7 linked regions of the Homo sapiens genome follow. The protein of the gene in region 3 purifies or fractionates together with the protein of the main gene of each other region. This does not show direct contact. Each region holds a gene or a part of one and is shown on either strand. Other genes may lie near its edges. The genes, in order: MKLN1, CSTPP1, KRABD3, TNIP2, MAEA, ASPM and RMND5A.

Region 1 (3,500 bases), about 18 Mb from region 3:
TTGCTATACCAGTTGAGACAAGGTTGTACTATATCAGGATCATCAATGCCACTAAGTTCAACATACCAGATGCTAAAGTTAAAGCTGGGTCCCCAGGACAAGAGTGGAACTTTAAGGAGAAAAAACAAAAAGAAGAAGAAAAATATTAACACAGTTCAAATAAAACTTTAGCAAAGTAAAAGCACTATTCAACCTTATAAGGATTCATTCAACGAATTTTCTGGGCATCTTTTATATGACTAGCATGGTGCTAAGGCTACAACAGTAAAACGAAACAGATGACCCATGCCACCATAAGATTTCCTTAGTTAATAAAAACACTGTAAGATAAATTAAAAATGTGCACATGTCTACCCCCAAATAAATGCCACCAGAATTAGATGATTTAACAGGTAAATTTTATCAAATGTACAAGCAGCAAAAAATTACTTTAGAATTTAGTCTACATCAGAACACTGAAAGAGACTGAAATTATTTATCAGTGGCACAACCCTGAAATCCAAATCAGAAGAAAAAAGACTTAAGGCCAATCACAGCTATGAATACATATTTAAATACAAATTAAAAGGAGAAAAGTTGCAAAAAATTCTATCAGATTTTCATTGTAACCAAACAGATCTCATTCCAGGAATGGAAAGATGATGGTTCAATAAATAATAGGAGCTATATTAATATAATCTACCACGTTAACAAAATAAAAGAAAAAACACATTTGATGACTTAAATACATTATTATTTTTAAACCCTCAATATATAAGCAATATAAGGCAATAAAAAATTTCCTTAGATTTTTTTAAAAAGCATCAAAAACCTTAAAAATTAAACCTACTGGGAAAATACTAAATATTCCCACTCAAGTCAGAACAAGACAAAGATGTCCAATATCTCTACTATTTGTCACTAATTAGAGGTCTCAACCAGTGCAATAAGGAAACAAACAAACAAATTAAGAAAAACGAATTGTAATTTAAAGATGACCTGTCTACCTAAAAAAATTCAAGAGAGCCAGGAGCAGTAGCTCAAGCCTGTAATCCCAGCACTTTGGGAGGCCGTGGCAAGAGGATCACTTGAGGCCAGGAATTCAAAACCAGCCTGGCAAACACAGTGAAACTCTGTCTCCACTAAAAATAGAAAAAATAGCCAGTCATGGTGGCGTGCGCCTATAATCCCAGCTACTTGGGAGGCTGTGGCAAGAGAATCACTTGAACCCAGGAGGTGGAGGTTGCAGTGAGCTGCCATGACACCACTGTACTCCAGCCTGGGCGACAGAATAAGACTGTGTCTCAGTGGAAAAAAATATATATATATATTCAATTGAAAAACTTTTTATTTGTAAACAAGGTAAACACACAAAAATCAACTTTTCCTATACCTACAATAACCAATTAGAAAATATACCTCAAAAAAGTCCTATTTATAATGGCAAAAAGCTGAAAATACTTCAGAATAAACTTAAAATACGCAATATTTATAAGAAAATATAAAATTTTAGTGAATAATTGAATAAATGAAAGAACATACTATGTTCCTATATAGGAAAACTCAATATTGTAAATGTGTAGCTCTCTCCAATTAATTATAAATTTAACATCATGTCAATCAAAATCCCAATGGTCTTTCCAGAGGTCCCACGTAGTCAAAACTACTTTTTTTTTTAATAACAACACTAGTTATTTTTCAAAACAACTATTTTTCAAAATAACATAATAAACACTTTTCTAGCCTTTTAATAATAGCAACATTGCACTAATGGTACAAAAGCAATGGTGTGTAAAACTGCTAGCACCTTGGTACCAAACTAATGGCACCAAAAAGTACTATTAGTGCTCAGTAAGTACAAGGTGCACTGTATGCCTCACCACCATACACTGGCAGTAAAATAAAATAAAATAAAATAAAATAAAATAAAATAAAATAAAATAAAAATAATTTTTACCAATGGCACAGAAAAATTAATTTTATTAAATTCCCATCAAGTACACATCTGTCTAGTATCCTGTGTGACAAAATGAGATTTGCATATAAAGCATTTTTGTTGTGTACCAAACCACAATGGTTATCTCAAGGAAAGGACCTGTACAATTATTTAAGTTGTGAGTTTAAAAATCAATTTATTTTTCATGGAATGCCATTTTATTCTTGAAAGAAAAACAGACAACCTATGATTATTCAGATTTGGGTATTTGCCAAACATTTACATGTTATTTCAAGGAAAATACTTAACGATATTTGCTGTCAAGGATAAAAACCAAGCTTTCAAGAGAAAAATTAGAATTTTGGAAGATAAGTACCCACCACTGTGAGCTTAACTGATTCCCAACACTTAGATTTTTTTAAATGAGATTAGATGTGATATTAATAAATGTGATTTTTAAAATATTACATAATGAAGTGTTTCAACATTTGGGAGATCTGTGTAATTCAGTGAACCATATTTTCTAAATAACCAATGAATGTTACAAAATCACACCTGGGTAAAAAGTCCAAGACAGACCACTGGGTAAAAAGTCCAAGATAGACCAGTGAATTTTAATGTAACAACAGATTCACTGATGCAGTTTCAGAATCAATAATGCAACTATCTTTAAGAAACTAACATTTGTAGAGTTTTGATGAAGCATCAAAATAGAATATCCAGAATAGCTGATACCAGGCGTAATGATTTCCAATATCCGACTGAATAAGGAAAATGTATGGGGTATGATACTTTTATATATTTTTGTCATCTAAAACAGGGGTCCCAAACCCCCAGGCCCAAACCTGTACAGGTCCCTGGCCTGTTAGGAACCCAGACGCATGGCAGGAGGTGCGCAGTGTGTTAAGGGAGCATTACTGCCTGGGCTCTGCCTCCTGTCAGATCAGCGTTGGCATTAGATTCTCAAAGGACTGCAAACTCTATCATGAACTGCAAATACAAGGGATCTAAGTTGTGCACTCCTTATGAGAATCTAATGCTTGATGATCTGAGATGGAAAAGTTTCATCCCAAAACCATCTCTCCACCATACCCTGCCCCAACTTCTGGGTCCACAGAAAAACTGTCTTCCACAAAACTGGTCGCTGGTGTCAAAAAGGTTGGGGACCACTGATATAAAGGAAGCTGTGTGAATAAAAACACAGGCAGTAGCAACCAGCCATAAGGATGTATGAAGGAATGCTGGGATATTTAATATGCCTTTCTGTTTATGTATGTAAACAACACACATTTCAAAAAGTTTTTTTTTAACAACAAATATTAAATTATCTTTATTGTTTTAGTGTTTCTTTATGTAGCAGTGTCATTTAAAAGTTTATCTACTAAATCACATAGCAATAACCATCTAGTAGTATAAGAGTCAGAATAAAATAATGATTCTAAACTAAAAGCACCAAGAATATAGTCTATATATGTCACCAGACATAAAATATTAGAGATTTCCAGGTCCAAGTCTCATTAAGAATTCATTTATTGGTCCTGGTGCAGTGGCTCATGTCTGTAATCCCAACACTTTGGGAGGCAGA
Region 2 (3,500 bases), on a different chromosome or scaffold from region 3:
CCCATCAAGCATTTTTCCTTTGTGTTACAAACAATCTAAATGTACCCTTTGAGTTATTTTAAAATGAACAATTAAGTTATCATTGACTAGAGTCACCCTGTTGTGCTATCAAATAGCAGGTCTTTTTCATTCTTTTTTTTCTTTTTTGTAACCATCAACCATCCCCACCTCTTCCCCCAGCCCCCTGCTACCCTTCCCAATCTCTGGTAACCATCCTTCTATTCTCTTTGTCCATGAGTTTAATTGTTTTGATTTTTACATCCCACAAACAAGTGAGAACATCCAATGTTTGTCTTTCTGTGCCTGGCTTATTTCACTTAACATAATGATCTTCAGTTCCATTCATGTTGTTGCAAATGACAGGATCTCATTCTTTCTTAGGGCCAAATAATACTCCATTGTGTATATGTACCACATTTTCTTTACCCATTCATCTGTTGATGGACACTTAGATTGCTTCCAAATCTTAGTACTCTAAACAGTGCTGTAACAAACATAGGAGTACTGATATTTATTCGATACACTAATTTCCTTTCTTTTGGGTATATACCCAGCAGTTGAATTGCTGGATCATATGGCAGCCCTATTCCTAGTTTTTTGAGGAACCTCCAAACTGTTCTCCACAGTGGTTATACTAATTTACATCCCCATCAACAGTGTAGAAGGGTTCCCTTTCTCCACATCCTCGCCAGCATTTGTTATTGCCTGTCTTTAGGATACAAGCCATTGTAACTGGGGTGAGATGTTATCTCATTGTAGTTTTGATTTGCATTTCTCTGATGATCAATGATGTTGAGCACCTTTGCTTATGCCTGTTTGCCATTTGTATGTCTTGTTTTGAGAAGTGTCTATGCACATCTTTTGTCCATTTTTTGATGGGATTATTGGATGTTTTCCTATAGAGATATTTGAGCTCCTTATATATTCTGGTTATTAATCCCTTGTCAGATGGGTAGTTTGCAAATACTTTCTCCCATTCTGTGGGTTGTCTCTTCACTTTGCTGATTAGAAATACACTTAAATCATTAAGTGATTGGCACAGCATCCTGTAGAAAGAAAACTGCAGAGGAACATTAGCCTAGATTCCATGAGAAAAGCCAGCCATGAAAAAAAACAGGCTAGATGAACATCAGCGAAAGGAAATCAAAGTGAATATTTTGAATAAAGGAGAAAGTTAAAAGAGAAACCTACAGAAATAGATCTAATAGATCAAACAAGCAGTTGTTAAGCTACTGTAATCAAAACTATTCATGAGACATCACTGGACAAACTAGCTGCACCAAAGGCATGCTCCAAAACATGTTTGGGCGGCCCACAACCAACCTACCAAAACTAAACATTCACTGCCACTACCTAATCAGCATTGTCCTGCTCTGTTCCTCAAGTATCCTGCCTGCTTCCAAGCGCCTCCTCTGGGTTCACTGTATTAGTACAACATTCATGTACTTACTATTCAGTGAAGAACCTGGCAATTCCATATTGGCTAATATCTTCCCTGTTTTCTAGCAGCTGGCACACTGCATCCTCCATGTAGGTGAGGACATGTCGCTGAGCTGCAATCAAATAGCAAGAGAGAAAGAGAAAATGAGAGAAAGATTTTAAAAAGAATGATCCCAATCCTAGTAGGAGGTCATGTGTAAGGCAATCCAGGTGTTGGCTCTGTCTGATGACACTTCATCAGTGGACTGGAATAGGCAAAGCAAACTTGCTGACCCTAACTGAGCTATAGTCTCAAAGGATAGATTGGGAGATGATGTGAACATGACCAATTGCCATTTGACTGGCTGTTAGTATTAGCATCAACCCTTCATTCTTCATCTCAATCACAAGGGTGGGTTGAAGAGGAGATTTAGCACCATTCAGCAGATACACCTGGAAGTTCTTTTCTTTCTACCTCCTTCTATTCTTTTCCATTTCTGCATCAGAAACTTATCCCAGGGAGTTAGTAATTCCATGCTTGAAGCATGGATGGTATGATTGTAAAGAAAACTCTGGCCAGGCACAGTGGCTCAGGCCTGTAATCCCAGCATTTTGGGAGGCTGAGGCGGGTGGATCACTTGAGGTCAGGAGTTCGAGACCAGCTTGGCAACATGGTGAAAACCTGTCTCTACCAATAATACAAAAATTAGCCAGATGCAGTGGCTACTTCCTGAGTAGCTAGTAATCCCAGCTACTCAGGAAGCTGCGGCAGGGGAATTGCTTGAACCTGGGAGGTGGAGGTTGCAGTGAGCCAAGATCATGCCATTGCACTCCAGCCTGGGCGACAGAGCCAGACTTCATTTCAGAACAGAAAAAAAAGAAAACTCAGTTAATTTAAATTAGAAAAAAAAAAAAAAAGTCACTGGAAAGGTTTAAGGACCATGAAAATTTTCGTACTGGTGTATATATAAGTTATTAACTTTGGTAAATAACAAGACCATGAAATCTATCTGGCTTGGTTTATTAGATGTCATGTTTTCTGCATTTGTTGTGACTTGGAAATGTGTGAGTTAATCATGGGCGTATAATAAAAAGTATGAGTATTAGAGTGAGACAGACCTGAGTTTGAATCATGGCTCTGTCTTGGTAGCTTAATCTTGGATAGTTACTTAGTCTACACCTGTTTTCTTCTTTATCAAGTGTGAAAAGCAATATAATTTAACTATGTTTCTCAAAATATGGTCAATCAATTTCTTGATCTGAATCCCCTGGGATGCCGTTTAAAACGCAGATTTATAGTCTGGCACTGTCCCAGATTTAGTGACCTTACATTTTTTACTACAGCCCAGTAATTTTTAACAAGTACTCCTGATGCTTCTTATGTACTCTTAAGTTTAAGAATCACTGGTTAAGAACCTGGGCTTTGGATTACAGAGAGTTGAGAGCTCCATTCTCAGCTCTGCCACTTCCTAGTTATGTGACCATAAACAAATTATTCTTCAAGCCTATTCTTCATGGTAAAATGGGGATAATAATGGTACTTACATTATAGGGTTATGAGAAATAAATAAGATAATACAGGTAAAACACCACTATGTGTTTGGTACATAGTACGTGATTGATAACATGTTTCCTTAAAAGCCTGTCTCAAAGCATTATTGGGAGTTTACTCAGTAAACAACATAGGCCAGAACTTCTTAGATGTCAGGTACTCAAATACTTCTTCCCTTTCTCTGAATTTTATCCTTAGGTATGACAGAGGTTTCCTGACAAACTTTACATAGAAGCTTCCAATTCAGTGTCCACATTTACCATAAAAAATTCAGAAAAATACTTTCATCTGGAGCAGTGAGAACAAAAAACCCCAAAGTGATGAATATCCTTCCAAAAAGCAATTCTATGAAGTTGCTGCCAAAGTAGACATTTACTTCTTTCACAGTTTCATTCCTCAGGAAAATATGATGGAATTACCTAAAATTTATAAATATTGGTATTTCAAAAAACTATTTCTGAAGTCCTGGTAGTCTAGTGAAGCTCATAAAACAAGTAAGTTTACCTGCCAACCTGAGCCCAAAAGTCTT
Region 3 (3,500 bases):
CTGGCTGGTAGGGCCGTCTGGAAGGCAGCTGAGCAGGCCTCGGAGAGGGCAGGGCTCTCTTGCCGCAGCTGCTGTCGGGAAAGAGGGAGAATCAACAACTGGTAAGATGCCCCTAACATTGTCACACTGTCACATTCTGGGTCCTTTCCTTGCCATGTACTAACAATGACCAGGATGTCAGCCACCTATGTGTTGTCATCACTGGGCTCTGAATGGGGCCATGGTGGGTGGAGGGTGACAAAGCCACACAGAAACCACCATGCGAAAGTCAGAGCTGCCCTCTCGCCAGCTATGGGCATGTGCTCAGAGGGCGGCACACGGCCTAGCCACGAGGAACAGCAGGTGACTCTGCCTCCCGGCCTGTGCCTGCAAGCCCACATGCAGTGCAGTGCCGTGGACTTGTGCTTCATCATGCGGAGTGCAGAGGAGGCTGCGTGCACTGCCCCACTGTCTGACTTACCCTCGGGGCTCGCTCTCTCTCCATCCAGGCTGGCTCCCCGGCTCTCGCTCTCGGGGCTGTCCATAGCGCCCTTGACTTCTCCAAACAAGAACTCTGGGATCTCCTTCACCAGCTGCACCAGGGCTGTGAGGTGCAGGCTGTGCCGGGGCTGTCCCCCTGCAGAGAGGCCACAGTGACCCCCCCGCACCCCTGCGGCTGCTCAGCACTCACACCTACGTGCGTGTTTTCACACCCAGCATCTCACGTAATCCTCCCAGCCACATGAGGAGCAGCCAGAGGAGACACCATGTCCCATGAGATATAGAGGACCTGGGCTCAGGCCAGGCGCTCTGGCCAAGGGACAGCCAGGGCATGGGGGCGGGGCCTGGGTAACAGGGCTCCTCTGTTCTACGTTACTCATTAATCTCCATGCCTCCCAGGGGAATGCCCAGGCGGGCTGCCGCTACACTTCTTCCACCATCTGGGCCCTCTGCCTTTCCTGGCACCCCCTAAATGCCTGGCCTTGCCCAGTCTGGGCCGGTGGAGCACATCCACCATCTGAGGTCTTGGGATGTAAGCCTCGTGGCAGGACTTTTGGGAGCTGGAGCAGGTTCTGCAGGGGTGGCTGTGATAAGGCTTCAGGGTGGTGGTGGGTGGGGGGCCTGAGGCAGGAGGTACTCTCCAGGGTGACCCCAGGCTTTCTCTGAGTGCTTCTCTGCATAACAGGCTTCCAGCCCAGAGGGATGAGGGGTGAAAGCTTGGGAGGTTGCAGTAGGGGAGGCAGGGAGGTGAGAGGCTGGACTGAGTAGGCTGAGGTCACGCATTGCCTGGGGCTGAGGACCGATGAGTGGGAGGAGACACCCAAAGTCTGACAGATAACTTACCCTGGGGATCTCCACAACCAGCAGGCTCCTGCCCCTCATCAGCGTGGCTCCCTCCCCCAACAGCTCTTCCAGGCTCTGAGGGTGACAGGAAAGCAGAGAGGGGGAGCAGCTCAGCTGTCCCTGGGAAAGAAGAGGGAACTGTGGCCCTGGGAATGGAGTGGTCTCCGCTTCGCACACAGTTGCATAGCAGCCCAGGCCCCTGCAGGTCTGTGCACATTCATGTGACCACTTAAACTCAAAGAACCGCAGAGTGGTCGGAACCTCAGAGGCCGCCGCATACCCCCACCGAATTGTACCTAGAACCCGGTCCCGGGACATAGAATAGCAGCAGCGTGAACGATCCCCGTGTTCATTTCTCAGGTGGAAAGACTAAGGCTGCCGGGTCCAGGGACTCCGGCCTCCCTTCCACCGCCCACCAGGCTCCTGCCACACGTGCTGCTCCCTCCCGTCCTTACCCACAGAGACCAGCGTCTCGTAGTTCTCCCGCATCACGTCTCGGTAGAACTCCCTCTGCCCCTCCTCCAGGAGCCGCCACTCCTCCTCCGAGAACCGCACGGCCAAGTCCTTGAAGGTGATGGACACCTGCAGGCACAGTCTCCGGGGGGGTTGGTTGTTCCATCCCAGAGGGGACAGCCTAGCTGTCCCTGCACTTGGTAACCCCACCTAGGCCTCCAGGCGCACACTCCAGGATAATAGCCAGGGTCTGACATGCAGGAATCCCCTCAAGAGACAGTGCTGGGGGTGAGCTGTGTCTCTGCAGAGACACGCTGAAGTCCTAACCCTCACGCCTGTAAGTAGGACCTTATTTAGAAACAGAGTCCCTGCAGATGGAATTACTTAAGATGAGGTCATACTCCTAAGTAGGGGGGACCCTTAGTCCAGTATGACTCATTCCTTATCAGAAGAGACACAGAGACAGACACAAAAGAAGAAAGCTGTGTGAAGACAGGCAGAGACTACAGTCATGCAGCCACAAGCCAAGGAATGCCCAGGGCCACCAGAAGCCACAAGAGGCAAGAAGGATCCTGGCCCAGAGCCTTCAGAGGGAGTGTGGCCTGCCCACACTGTGACGTAGGGCTTCGGGTCTGCAGGGCTGTGAGAGAAGACATTCTTGCTGTCCACCTAGTTTGTGTGCTGGGTTTAGAGAAGTGCTCAGAAGAAACCTGGGGTTGCCCTTGGAAGCTTTGGGTCACCAGGCTCCTTTACACCCTGTACTCCTATCTCCTATTCTCTGTACTCATCTCCTCCTACCCTGTGGCTTTTTAAAATAACACGAGCATTTTTGTCTATGTTTCTTTACAAAATAATCCTTCGGCTGGGTGTGGTGGCTCACGCCTGTAATCCCAGCACTTCGGGGGGCCAAGGCAGACAGATCACCTGAGATCAGGAGTTCGAGACCAGGCTGGCCAATATGGTGAAACCTTGTCTCTACTAAAAATGCAAAAATTAGGTGTGGTGGTGGGCGCCTGTAATCTCAGCTACTCAGGAGGCTGAGGCAGGAGAATTGCTTGACCTCGGAAGGCAGAGGTTGCAGTGAGCCGAGATCACGCCATTGCACTCCAGTCTGGGCAATATGGCGAGACTCCATCTCAAAAAAAAAAAAAAAAAAAAAAAGTCCTTCAGTGGACTTTAAAGTGGCCATCAGACACTAGAAAATGACCAGCATCAATAGGCTTGAATTTAAAATTATGGCAAAAATTAACTGTGCAAATTAAGCAAACAGAAGGTAAATTATGGGAAGGGTCCTTCCTGTTGAGAAATGAATGTTAAACTGTTTATTTGTGAGAACAAATTATTAAAGAAAATGAACACGCCCCTAATAAAGCAAAGACAATTCACCGCTTGTTTCATCTGCTCAGGGCAGTTATTTTAATTAATTAATTAAAAAAGACAGGACCTTACTATGTTGCCCAGGCCAGTCTTGAACTCCTGGGCTCAAGTGGTTCTCCCACATTGGTCTCCCAAAGTGCTAGGATTACAGGCGTGAGCCCCTGCACCCACCCAAGTCAGTGATTCTAAAAACTGTCCCAGGCTGGGTGTGATGGTTCACGCCTGTAATCCCAGCACTTTGGGAGGCCCAGGTGGGTGGATCACCTGAGGTCAGGAGTTCAAGACCAGCCTGGCCAACATGGTGAAACCCCATCTCTAATAAAATACAAAAATTAGCCAGGCATGGT
Region 4 (2,595 bases), on a different chromosome or scaffold from region 3:
GGAATAGCCTGGGCCCCACTCAAAGAGCTTCCTCTCCTGGCACAGACTGAACAGTAGTGATGCCTCTTGAGAATCGATGCGTCCCGGGCTGGAGCTAGGACGTCAGCCGTGTTTCAGGGTGTGAACAGGGACCCTGGGGCTGTGAGGCCACCCCCCACTGCCCTGTTCCGAGCAGCCACTGGGCCTCAGTGGTTTCTGCTTCTCCTCCGCATGAAGGGCACGGGAGAGTCATGGTGGACTATGGGACTAACCCTGGGACTAAGTCTGCAGCAGAGGGCTGGACAGGTTTTTCTGGCCTTCATGAATTCAAGGAAGCATGTGATTTGGATTGAAGGAGCACTATTGGTACAATCGTGAGGATGGTCTCAGGCCGCCTCTTGAAGATTTTGGACCAGATGAACTGGTTCCAGACTTGCAGGCCCAGATTCTTACCCCCGGGGGTAAAGTTCCTGGTGGGGCCTGCAGACCTTGTACTAAGTGGCCTCTGGTTCCCTTTCAACAGTAGCCTGTGGCCCCTCGAGGGTTGCTCAGTCCCTAGATGGCACAGCCAGGGACAGTGGTGCTGAAGGCATGGGTGATAAGCTGTAGTCCCACTGGGGAAAGTCCACATTCAGACAGGAAGTGGAAGCACCAAGGCCTGCTGGAATGAAGTTCCCAGGCAAGCAGTGAGGGCCACAGGCTGCAGTGCTTCAGGACGGATGTTTGGAGAACATGTGCCAGATCATGCCAGGTGGTTGGTGGGGCCAAGCCAGGGACACCTCTTGCTGCTACTGAAGGACCCCCTGAGCCCCAGAGTGCTCAGCACCCCCAGGCCCCACAGAGGAGGTGCAGAGTAGGGTTGGTACTCAGTTTGCCCAGCTCCCCACCAGAGGCTCTGCCACCTCCACTCTGTGGTGGCCTGTGGGCCACGTCATCAGGGCCACCTTCTCAGTCAGGTCTCCTGGGGCCGATAGGTCCAACTGAACAGGACTTCCACCAAGGGGCTGGGGGGTGGACCACGCCAGGGCCTACTTCTTCATGAGCACATGACGGAGCGTGTGTGTGATCCTCAGTCATTCACTGAGCGCCCCCTTGTCTGGGCTCTGGGGCGCAGCAGGAAGCAAAGTGAGGGGCTGAAGTTCCGCTCAGGGATAGGTGAAGTGCCTCTGGTTGCTGGAACCTGAGACCTGGCTTTGTGACCGTCAGCACAGCCCACGTATATACACCCTTGCCTTTTCTCCAGGATTCTCGAGAGCCAGACGCCGGCCGGATTCACGCTGGGAGCAAAACTGCCAAGTATTTGGCCGCCGACGCATTAGAGCTTATGGTGCCTGGTGGCTGGAGGCCTGGGACTGGGTCCCAGCAGCCAGAACCCCCTGCAGAGGGCGGGCATCCTGGCGCGGCCCAGAGAGGCCAGGGGGACCTTCAGTGCCCTCACTGCCTGCAGTGCTTCAGTGACGAGCAAGGGGAAGAGCTCCTCAGGCATGTGGCTGAGTGCTGCCAGTGACCGAGACTCACCCGTGCCCTTGCGGCCTCCTGGCCCGGTGCAGCTGCCCTCAGGGACAGGGTGGGTGCTCTCAGATGCCATGGGTTGAGCTCTACTGAGAGCCAAGGCCCCTAGAATAGTTGCGGGGCACTCTGATCGTTCACTTTGGTCCCTTTGGCTATGGAACAGGCTGGGTCACAGGGAACTGCCAGTGAGGCTGGAGGCTGGAGGTGGAGATGGGGTCAGGAACATCTGGCAGAGGGAGGTCCCAGTCTGTGTCTCCATCAGGCTTAAGCCAGAGCTATCTGGTGCTGGTGTGCCAGCCCCTCCCCCAGCCTGCCTAGAAAGGGGTGGCTGCCTGAGGGAGTCACTTGTATGGTCCCCAGGGTGGGAGCCCCATCCTGTTCTATGGAATAAAGCGTCGCCTCTCTGCCTCGAACCAGTCAAATGGAGTATTGCGGCTGCACGTCACACTAGGGTGGCCACCCCCGCCATTGCGAGCCACATGTCTGCACTGAGAAACTGCATTTCAGTAGCATTTGTCATCCAGCCGGAAGTTAAAGCACACTTACTTTATTCACCTATTTTTATAATAAACGTTCTTGCTGCTGTGACTGCTCTGAGAATTTGTGTTGGAAGCTGGGGTGCAGGGACTGAACAGTATTTACAGCAGCTGGCATGGGAAAACACTCCTGCTGTTGCCTTCTGCCAGGGCACCAAGACAAGGGGGTCAGTGGGAGCCTGGCTGTATTAGGGTTCTCTAGAGGGACAGAACTAATGGAACAGATAGATATATAAAGGGGAGTGTGTCAAGTATTAACTCACACGATCACAAGTTCCCACAATAGGCCGTCTGCAGGCTGAGGAACAAGGAGAGCCAGTCCCGAGTTCCGAAACTGAAGAACTTGGGAGTCCTATGTTCAAGGGCAGGAAGCATCCAGCACGGAGCAAGATGTAGGCTGGGAGGCCAGGCCAGTCTCTCTTTTCACGTTTTTCTGCCTGCTTTATTCTGGCCACGCTGGCAGCTGATTAGATGGTGCCCACCCCGATTGAGGGTGGATCTGCCTTCCCCAGCCCACTGACTCAAATGTTAATCTCCTTGGCAACACCCTCACAGACACACCCAGATC
Region 5 (3,500 bases), on a different chromosome or scaffold from region 3:
ACCGTTATGTGAGACAGCGGTCACGACTCACGAGGGAAAAGGGCAGAAGTGGGAGATGCTGGGGCTGCAGTTTCAACAGTGGAGTCAGAGAAGCTTCACAAGCTGACAGCTCAGCGAAGATTGAAGGAGGTGAGGACATGGGACCACGGACGTTGGCAAAGATTGAAGGTGAGGACATGGGACCATGGACATCTGTGGAAGGAGCGCTCCAGACAGAGGAAGGTGGCAGTAAAACCCTGGGCTCGGCATGCTGGCCTGGCTGAATGGCGGCAGAAAGGCCACTGGGCCCAGCACCCTACAGGGCAAAGGGCCTGGGAGCCACTGTAACGACCCTGGCCTTCATCCCCAGGTCAGGAAACTCCTAGAACAAAAAGACGACAGGATCTGGCGCTGGGGCAGCCGGGGTGGGCATGAGCAGAGCAGGAGCAGCCAGAAGGCTATTCAATATTCCAGAGAGAGATGCGACTTGAGCCGCAGGGGCAGAGGTGGGAAGAGCAGCAGCAGCTGGGCCTGGGCATGTCCTGACGCCAGGGTGGAGGGGCAGACGGGCTGGGCATGAGCTGTGACAACAGAGGCATCAAGGCCAACCTGAAGGTTCTGGCCTGACCAAGGGAGATGGAGGGGCTGCCCTTCCCGAAGAGAAGGGAGACTGGTAGAATTGGTTTGGGCAGCAGGTGTTAAGATGATAAGCTCAGATCTAAATATGCCAAGGAGCTGGGCATGGTGGCTCACACCTGTTATTCCAACACTTTTGGACGCCCAGGAGGGAGGAATGCTTGAGCCCAAGAGATGGAGACCAGCCTAGACAACGGAGCTAGAACCTATCTCTACAAATAAAAAAATTAGCCAGACACGGAAGCAGGCGCCCGTGGTCCCAGTTACCCGGGAGGCTGAGGCAGGAAGATCACCTGAGCCCAGGAGGTCAAGGCTGAAGTGAGCTGTGATCATGCCACTGCACTCCCGCCTGGGTGCCAGAGTGAGATCCCATCTCTAAAAATAATAATAATTTTAATAATAATAATTTTAATGCCAAAGTGCCTTGCCAAGTGGGTATGTTTTACAGGCTACTGGATACAGGGCTCTGGGGTTGGGAAGATACCTGCCTGGGAGTCATCAGTATACACAGAGGGTCCTATCAGTCCACTAGACCCTGTGAGAGCACCAAGGCAGCGGTGCTCACAGCAACACCCAGGGCCAAGGACTGAGCCCGGGGGGAAACGCGAGGATGGCGCTCTAGGAGCCCGAGGGGGTGAGCTGTGTTCCAGCCCTGTGAGAGGTCGAGATGGGCAGCAAGAATCCATCATGGGTCTCAGCAGTGTCTTGGGGTTACCTGGTGCCCTGACTATAGCACTGTGATGGGGGTAAAACCAGATGAGAAGCAATTCCAGAGACCCCAAGGCAGGGCTGGCTCAGACAGAGGGGACCTGTGGGTCCCGCACACAGTTAACCAGAAGACGGCGCGTGTGCCTCTTCGTGGATAACCAGAAGACGGCGCGTGTGCCTCTTCGTGGATAACCAGAAGACGGCGCGTGTGCCTCTTCGTGGATAACCAGAAGACGGCACATGCCTCTTCAGGTCACAGGGATGGGGCAGGGGGTCTGGTGCATGAACAAAGGCTGGCCTTGGGCGGGGCACAAATGACATATCTCCAGTAAAAGAAAGGAAACAGTGAGCACAAGCAGGCAGGCGACAGACAGGGCCAAGCCGCGGGCAGAGCACAAGGACGGGGCAGGCATGGGGGGCTCATGGAGAAGGAGGGGCATATGGAACAGTACCTGGGGTACAGGGTGCTAAAATGCCTCAAGAAGCATGGCTATGCTGCCAGGCAGTACTCGACACCCACTCCAGGCAGCAACCGGGTTCCTCAGCAGATAGGTGCGGCTTCTGTGGCCAGTGCAGGGGCCTTGCACAGCGGGGTTTCCATGCTGGAATGTTCTAGAACAATGGGAAGCAGAGAAGGGCAGGGGATGGGGCTACATCGCGAGGGGTGGAGGCAAGGGAGAAAGGAAACGCAAGAGGCTGACCACAGCCAGATGAGAGCACAGGCCATGAGACCAAGACATACTCTAGAATGCGGCAAGTGGACAAAAGTGAGATGCGAAGTTTAGGAATTTCCCAGACAGACGGGGGAGAAATTGGTTCGGCCAACAGCCATTGACTGACTCCTGTGCCAGGCACTCGTGGGTGTGACGTGAACGACGACAAAGGACGGCCCGTGCCCTCGCAGAGCAGACGCTCTAAAGGAGACGCCCAACCAAAGCACAGAGAGATGCAGGCGACCGCGTCAGACTGTGACGAGTGCTGCAAAGGAAACCAGGCAGGCAAGGGACAAAGGGCAAAAGGAACCACATCCTAATTTTATTTAGGGCAGCAATGAGCCCACACTCAAGCGCGTGCTCTCTCTCTATATGTATGTATACACACACACATACGCACGTACTTTTTCAGGCTCCTCCAAAGCTAGAAATGGCCAGCCCCGTGCTCTGGGGAATGAGCTGAAGTGTAAACGCTTGGGAGGATGTCCACTAAGGCCCCCACGCAGGGAGCTGGCCACGCAGGGCGGCACTGATTCCCCCTTACCCTCCTCCTGGCCGCGAAGGCCGCAGCCCCAGCAGCCATCGTGGACTCAAGGATAAACGTGAGAAACAGAAATCGAGAAAACCTCCGAGTTCTCGGCTGTCACTGAACAAGTGCCGGGGGACATCGCTGTCAACTGACTTGGGAAGGGTGGCTTAGTAAGGCAGGTCTGGGGCTCGTCTGGGGCCCCAAGGCCGAGATGCGGCATTTGGTTTTGCGCCTGGTATCGTATCTTTGAACTGCCTTCCAGACATGCGAAGAGAGCTCCGGGAGGTGACTACACGGGATGGCCTCAGGGAGAGAGGCCTGGGGAGGGCAGCAGTGTGGGGACAGGAGCTTGGAGACCGTCTGTGAAGCCACACAACCTCTGGAGGGCTGGCTGGTGACATAAAACAAAAGGCCTCCAAGACTAGAGAAGACAGCATAGGCAAGTGAGGACATGCAGCGAGGGGTGGGGAGAGCCCAGAGGATGGTGTCACGGGAGCCGAGTGATGGGAGCGTCTCGAGGCAGTGGGGTCCGCTGTGGACTGACCGCTTTCAGGAGCATCATCCTGTCCTCAAGAGGAACATCTGGGTGGAGTGTTGGGGGGCAAAAATCTGATTTAGGTAAAACAGGAAGAGAGACATGAAGGGGCAGAGACAGGGAGTAGTAGCTGGAGGAGGACGGGGGCAAGGAAGGGGTTTTCACGAGAGGAAGACTCAGAGCCACGTGCACACCAGGGAGCTGCACAGCCAATGGGAAAACCGACCAACAGAGAGAGAACCAAGTGCAGGAGCAGCCACAAGGCAAAGGGCACAGCACAGGTGAGGGGGGCACAGCGCAAGTGAGGGAGGCACAGGCACGGGTGAGGGGGGCACAGGCACGGGTGAGGAACGGCACAGGCATGGGTGAGGGGTACAGGTGAGGAATGGCATGGGTGACG
Region 6 (3,500 bases), on a different chromosome or scaffold from region 3:
GTCACTACAAAAAAAATCAACTAAAGATAAAAGAAGTTAACAACTGAGAAAATGACTGGCAAAAATCAGTAACTCTGACTTATTAAAACTCTCCATGCTACATAAATCTGGAAACTCTATTTCACATAAAACTGGAGCTGAAAGAGACAAATATTTACTTATAAAATTAAAAGTTATATGGGAAACAAACACTAATTTTTTTTAGAAAAAATATGAACAGAGTAAAAATATGCCTTATAGTTATCATATAATATCATGTTTTATAGCTCTGGGAAAATAGAAAATAAAATGTTCTGTTAGCATGAATCCTTCTGTGCCCTAAAAAAACCCTATGGATCATACTATTATTACCTAAAAAGTCTATTCTCAAATGCAGCAGAGTGATAATTTTTATAAGGTAGATATTATTTTTAGATATGGAATAATATTGGTGATTTCAATTTTAATAACATTGGATTAAGATGAAAGAATGAGAAGATAAAGGTCCCTCAGCAATATAACTCACAAACATGTTCAGAAGCAGTAAGAAGTCACATTAATTATTTTTTGAAAGTCAATAATCTACATTTTTAATTTATGCATATAGCATAGCTAATGTACTATTGCTGGGTCCATTTATTCAAGGAATAATTGCCGCTATGTGTCAGACATTGTTCTAGGCCTAGGAATGGACACTTAAGTGAACAAAGCAAAGATTCTGGTTCTTGTAGTTTCCATTAAAAGACCATTTAGTAAAATTTTTCTTCCCCCAAATTATAAAATCTGTAAGATGATTTAACAACATGTATAAAAGTCATCGTAGGCCGGGCATGGTGGCTCATACCAGGTGTAGTGACTCATAGCGCTCTGTCACTCATGCTGGAGTGCAGTGGCACAATCTCTGTTCACTGCACCTCTGCCTCCTGGGTATAAGCGACTCTCCCGCCTCAGCCTTTCGAGTAGCAGGGACTACAGGTGCACACCATCATGCCCAGCCAACTTCTGCATTATCAGTAGGGATGGGGTTTCACCATGCCAGCCGGGCAGGTCACAAACTCCTGACCTCAAGTGATCCGCCCACTTTGGCCTCCCAAAGTGCTGGGACCACAGGTGTAAGCCACTGCACCCAGCCTTATTTTTACAACTTTGATAACTTTAGCGTATACCCCAAATCTGTAAGACATAATATTATCATTCAAATGCAACTCATGGCTTCTCATTGTACTCTGATTTTCTCTAGCTTTTGAATTCTTTATTCTAATATCAGTTTTAAGTCTGACATAAAAGCATGAGAGTTCTAATCAAAATCCAATCTTTTATCATAATAAAAACTATCAAGAAATTATTAGAATTTAAAAAGGAAAATAGGCCTATTAATTAGATTTGTATAACATAATATTTTATGCCTATGAGTCCCCAACAAAGCCTCAAGCTTCTATTTAGATATAAAATGTAAAAGTCACTACTGGATCCACAAGCAGGACTATGGTAAAGAAATTTCTCCACCTAAACTGCTCCTTTAACATGATGTTACATGTTTATTTTTTCATTTTGGCAAATATTGATTGAATGTCATCTTCGTGTTAGTCTACATCCTAAGTGCCAGGATACAGAATCTGAAAAGATGGACACAGGACCTGTCTTCAGGGAGTTCACACCTTTTTATTTCTTGAGATGGAGTCCCGCCCTTGTCGCCCAGGCTGGAGTGCAATGGCAAGAACCTGGCTCGCTGCAACCTCCACCTCTGGGGCCCAAGTGACTCTCCCAGCCTCCCAAGCAGCTGGGACCACAGGTACCGGCCACCAAGCCCAGCCAACTCTTGTATTCCCAGCAGAGACAGGGCCTCATCATCCTGGTCAGGCTGGTCTTGAACTCCTGACCTCAGATGGTCCACCTGCCTCAGCCTCCCAAAGTGCTGGGATCACAGGCATGAGCCACCACGCCCCACTAGGAGTTCACACTTTAGTTAGGGAAAATATACAATAAGCAAGCCAATTTTTAAAATAAGAACTTCAATCAGATTTAAATGCTACAAATACAATCACAGGAAGCTGGGATGTGAATGATAGGGCTCTCAAACAGAAAATTAAGAGAAACGATTATTTCTTACGATGTTTGTCTTTCTTTGTATTGGTGCTCAGCTGAGTCTGCAGTGCCTCAGAAGCAGCCTTCATTTTATAAAAAATCTATTATTTCTCCTTCCAGTTGTTTTTTCTCTTCTTCGAGCTTCCTTATCTCCTCCTGTTGAATCATTTTAAGATGCTTGAACTTGTCCTGCAGCTCTTTTTCAGCTTCTTTCTCCTTGACTCGCTGCATAAATCTGTTTCAACTCTTCTTCTCTCTGACATTGATCATAGCACTCTTGTCTTTTGGCTTCAAAGATTTCTTGAAAACTAACTGGCTGGTTGTCTGGGCCCAGATCTGTAAAGCCCATTTTCTGCAGTTTTTGGTACCTACAGCATTCATAGTGCTGAGTGTAGGTTTTTCTTTTAGATTTTCCACATTGGTACAAAGAAGCATATCTTGGAGCTTAACGAAGTCACAGTGATTTTCATTTTCCACTTGGAAAACTCCCCAAGGCTAGTGACGGCCTCTGACCATCCTTTTACCAACTTTCACTTCATCCATACTCCCTACCACAGCAAAGGATAACAGCCCATGTTTTTGGCCGGGCGCGGTGGCTCACGCCTGAAATCCCAGCACCCTGGGAGGCGAGGGGAGGGATCACGAGGTCAGGAGATTGCCCGACCACCCCGGCCAACACGGTGAAACCCCGTCTCCACTAAAAATACAAAAAAATTAGCCGGGCATGGTCGTGGGTGCCCGCAGTCCAAATATCTGTCTTTTCTTTATGCTAGAAACATCAGTTATTCTCTTCTAGCTATTTTGAAATATACAATAATTACTATAGTGACCCTACTGATCTATTGAACATTTGGTCTTTATTTCTTTTATCAAACAGAAAGTTGACACAATATCCTGTCATTTTAATACACACTTTAACAATTCTTCCAGGCTGTTATTCAACAACAAAAATCAATTCATTTCCATGTGAAATGCAATTAATGCTTCATTCGATGTCATGTTTTCAGAGAGTTTAAGTATAATAAATACTTGCCTGTTTTTAATGGTTTTATGAAGGTCAAACTGGACTGTGCCACAGCGATAATGGGTTTTGTCCTTTTGTTTGTTTTAGAAATTGGAGTTCTGAATATTGATAAATCTAAAATAAATTAGAAAACAAAACTAAGAGCATTAAAATACAAATTCCCTAAATAGGTCAGTGATTTGAAAGTTAAAGTTTGGGTTCTTCACAATCATATTCATTTAGCAAACACTTAATAACCACTGTACTCCACGCACTAATGCTATGAATTCAGTGGTTTATCAAACCAACATCCAGAAGTCACAGACCATAAACCACAATTTATTTTGTGTTTACAGAGGCTAAAGTCTAGATTCAACCAAAACTTATTGTGTCTGTATATTCCAGACTCTCTACGAGGTGCTGAGAATATGCA
Region 7 (3,126 bases), on a different chromosome or scaffold from region 3:
AGTGGCTCACGCCTGTAATCCCAGCACTTTGGGAGGCTGAGGTGGGCAGATCACTTGAGGGTCAGGAGTTCGAGACCAGCCTGGCCAACATGGTGAAACACTGTCTACTAAAAATAAAAAAAAATTAGCTGGGCATGGTGGCACATGCCTGTAATCCCAGCTACCCGGGAGGCTGAGGCACGAGAATCGCTTGGACCCAGGAGGTGGAGGTTGCAGTGAGCCGAGATTGGGCTACTGCACTCCAGCCCAGGCAACAGAGTGAGAGTCTGTCTCAAAACAACAACAAAAAACAACTCGGGACACTGCTCAGTCACCTTCTCTTCTCACTGTTGGTGGCACAGAAACACAGTAAGATGGGGACAGATATTTTCTTAAATTCTTGACATGCAGACCCTTAGCAAATACAGACAGCAATTTTCTCTTCTCACAGTCAGCACCTCCCTACTCCCTCCCTCATACCTTTGTCACCTGGCACATTTATACAGACTGGTTCCACAAAACACTTTTTAAATGTGCATTTCTTTAATTTTTAAAAATATACACAGGAAAAGCCATGTGTTTTACATAGGAATACACACATTAACAAAGCATTTCTTATAGTTTTCCAAAACTCTATTATATCAGTCCGAAATTTATAAATTAAATATATCAGAATTCTTAAAGTTAAAATGAATTCCCTGAAACTACTGGATATGCTACTTTTTCCAAAATCAAATGAACAGAGGATATGGATGTGGTTTGTGTTAAATAAGGTTTATTGTTAGCTTTATTGCCTATAGTCTATAAGATGCAACTTTACTGTGCCTTTGCAAACAGGATACATTTCTTAAAAAATTGATCAAAATTTTCCATACATATAGCTCTATATGATAGATTACAGTGCAACACTATTCTCGTTACATAATTATAGAAATACTATAGAACCCAAGAGCACGGGGTAAGCAAAATAAATACAATCCTGAGCCATCTGAACAAGATGATTTGATGAATCCTTTAGTGTAAGTTTAGAAAACACAGAGAAGGAAAAAAATACATGCATACTGCAGTCATGAGCAAAATACATCAAACACCTGTTCCTTGCTAGGTGCAGGTGGGGGCAATGGTGAACTTCAGACACATGCACACTCACTCACACTCCCATTTTCTTCTGCTTCCCTCCCAGCCCCAACACATTCATTCCCGCCCCTTCCCAAAAAAAAGATCAGGCACTAAATCCTAGTGAACCCCACAACTGCCTTGCTGGAGAAGGTTAAGTGACTGCTAAAGTAAGAGTGTATGTAGGTCCTCACCCATAACATGAAACAAAGCATGTGCTGTAAGCCAATTCCAGCTGCTTTTGCCTCTTTGGAAGTAAATGAAGCATATGCCCACTACAGCTTGAAACTGCAGTGGAAATGTCTTGAAAACAAAATTTTGTTTCTCTTGCTATGTCTTGAAGTAAAATCAACAGTGGAAAATTCATCCTAAAACTGCCTCATCTGCTATTAAAATACATTTGTCATTCTATTTTTGGTATCTATTCAATTATAGTTCATTAAGAACGGTTCATGAAGCTTGTACCTGCTTATGGTAAACATCAGTGTACCACACAAAACCTGCCACACCTAGACAGGCTTATGAAACACCAAATCTTCTATGTGTTCCTTGCTAACATTCCCTCAAGACCACAGCATTCTAGTGTTACCAGAGATAAAGTACGTATAGTTAAGTGATGAAAGAAAGGTATTTGGTTTGTGTCGTCACCTTATACATCCTAGTGATGAAACTAACCAAACTATGCCTCCATGCCTTCCCTGAAAATAACCTGAGTCGGCTGACGAAACAGACTGAGCAGCGTGGCTCTCAGTCCACTTTATCAGAGGTTGAGCTGGAAAACCAGAGGGCTAATGTAGTCTACCAGCAGCTTGTGCGGATAACCAAGAGTTCTTGGCTGTTGCAGTATCCACTGTCCCAAAGGCTAAGCCACTGAGGTGGAAATCAATCGCAGCATAAAGAAGACTGAACTTAAGCTGCATAACCTGCGAGACTACCTGGAGAGGACAAAAGAGGATCAGGATCCTCATTTCCCACAAAATGTGGTGTGGGTTTTAGTGTCTCTATGCATTAGCTGCTACAGAGAAGTTAACATTTACTTCATAGCTTTCTTATTTTCAATTAAATGCTCACACTCAAAAAATACACACCCTATGAATATGAGGTGGCTCTTTTCTTCAAATTTTTTAAAATAAAGAGGCACCAATACCCGTTCATTTATGTATTAGAAGTCTCGTATAATCACCAATAAAACAGAAATAGCATCTGTGATCACACAACGGAGAAAAAAGATCAAGAGACAACCTTAGCCACTGTAAAACTGTACTTGAACACTCAGATGCTCTGGCTAAGTCAGAATCTAAAGATTTGCTAATAAGGTTTTATTGGTTTAGCATAGTCCCATGGCCTTTGTCTATAACTGATATGTGGAAACGGTTCCCAAGGAAATTTAAGAAACCATTCTGAAATTCTGCCTTTGATGTACATTATAATTAAATGTGACTGTTATAAACGTTGCCTCTATCATATTATCTTTTGTAAAGTGGAGGCAAAGAGAGACAAAAAGCATCCTCCTGGACTGCTGACATGCAGAAAGCATCAGCGATGATAGGGTTGTGACAGCATTTATGGAGTTTCTAGGGCAGGGGGGACAGAATGCTGTATCTCAGCATCTTTGGTTAAGGTCTGGCCTCTTTAAATCCACCTCTCCCTCACATTTAGTCTCTCATGAATTTTAAGTCCATGCACTTGAAGACGGTCACAAGATATAATTTCCATATAATATGTCAGATTCATAAGAGTTTCAGATTTTTGGTCCTCACCCTGCCCAGTGGGAGTACACGGGCCTTACACAGAAAGCTGCAGAGTCCAATGCTTCAGTTAAAGCATGTTCTTTTCAAAGTTTTCTTGAGCTGCACAAAAAACCGTCAACAGTTTTTTGGCTCCCAGCACTGGGAGAGGGATAAAGCTGAGCTCTGGCTTTTGTCCTTTAAAGTGGCCCAAGCCGACTGTATGAAGAGTCTGGTCATCAAACACATTTACCACCAGCCTTCAGAGTACATCTGTCTCATTCAAACCTTACAGGAAGCCTAA

What was found.
Region 1: the proteins of KRABD3 (region 3) and MKLN1 purify together in Homo sapiens (co-immunoprecipitation; one large-scale study listed by IntAct). This does not show direct contact.
Region 2: the proteins of KRABD3 (region 3) and CSTPP1 purify together in Homo sapiens (co-immunoprecipitation; one large-scale study listed by IntAct). This does not show direct contact.
Region 4: the proteins of KRABD3 (region 3) and TNIP2 purify together in Homo sapiens (co-immunoprecipitation; one large-scale study listed by IntAct). This does not show direct contact.
Region 5: the proteins of KRABD3 (region 3) and MAEA purify together in Homo sapiens (affinity purification with mass spectrometry; one large-scale study listed by BioGRID and IntAct). This does not show direct contact.
Region 6: the proteins of KRABD3 (region 3) and ASPM purify together in Homo sapiens (co-immunoprecipitation; one large-scale study listed by IntAct). This does not show direct contact.
Region 7: the proteins of KRABD3 (region 3) and RMND5A purify together in Homo sapiens (co-immunoprecipitation; one large-scale study listed by IntAct). This does not show direct contact.

The regions. Positions count from the first base shown.
Region 1 is NC_000007.14:131,393,876-131,397,375, reverse strand, and holds part of MKLN1 (muskelin), read right to left. Parts: intron 110-3,500; coding exon 1-109. UniProt on the Homo sapiens protein: Component of the CTLH E3 ubiquitin-protein ligase complex that selectively accepts ubiquitin from UBE2H and mediates ubiquitination and subsequent proteasomal degradation of the transcription factor HBP1.
Region 2 is NC_000011.10:46,985,261-46,988,760, reverse strand, and holds part of CSTPP1 (centriolar satellite-associated tubulin polyglutamylase complex regulator 1), read right to left. Parts: intron 1,554-3,500; coding exon 1,451-1,553; intron 1-1,450. UniProt on the Homo sapiens protein: Regulator of the tubulin polyglutamylase complex (TPGC) that controls cytoskeletal organization, nuclear shape, and cilium disassembly by balancing microtubule and actin assembly.
Region 3 is NC_000007.14:149,717,951-149,721,450, reverse strand, and holds part of KRABD3 (protein KRBA1), read right to left. Parts: intron 1,983-3,500; exon of another isoform or gene 1,906-1,982; coding exon 1,779-1,905; intron 1,444-1,778; coding exon 1,324-1,443; intron 617-1,323; coding exon 461-616; intron 72-460; coding exon of another isoform or gene 69-71; coding exon 1-68.
Region 4 is NC_000004.12:2,741,148-2,743,742, reverse strand, and holds the end of TNIP2 (TNFAIP3-interacting protein 2), read left to right. Parts: intron 1-1,222; coding exon 1,223-1,486; 3' UTR 1,487-2,095; downstream 2,096-2,595. UniProt on the Homo sapiens protein: Inhibits NF-kappa-B activation by blocking the interaction of RIPK1 with its downstream effector NEMO/IKBKG.
Region 5 is NC_000004.12:1,296,391-1,299,890, reverse strand, and holds part of MAEA (E3 ubiquitin-protein transferase MAEA), read right to left. Parts: intron 1,918-3,500; exon of another isoform or gene 1,776-1,917; intron 1-1,775.
Region 6 is NC_000001.11:197,136,670-197,140,169, forward strand, and holds part of ASPM (abnormal spindle-like microcephaly-associated protein), read right to left. Parts: intron 3,203-3,500; coding exon 3,098-3,202; intron 2,639-3,097; exon of another isoform or gene 1,879-2,638; intron 1-1,878. UniProt on the Homo sapiens protein: Involved in mitotic spindle regulation and coordination of mitotic processes.
Region 7 is NC_000002.12:86,775,416-86,778,541, reverse strand, and holds the end of RMND5A (E3 ubiquitin-protein transferase RMND5A), read right to left. Parts: 3' UTR 501-3,126; downstream 1-500.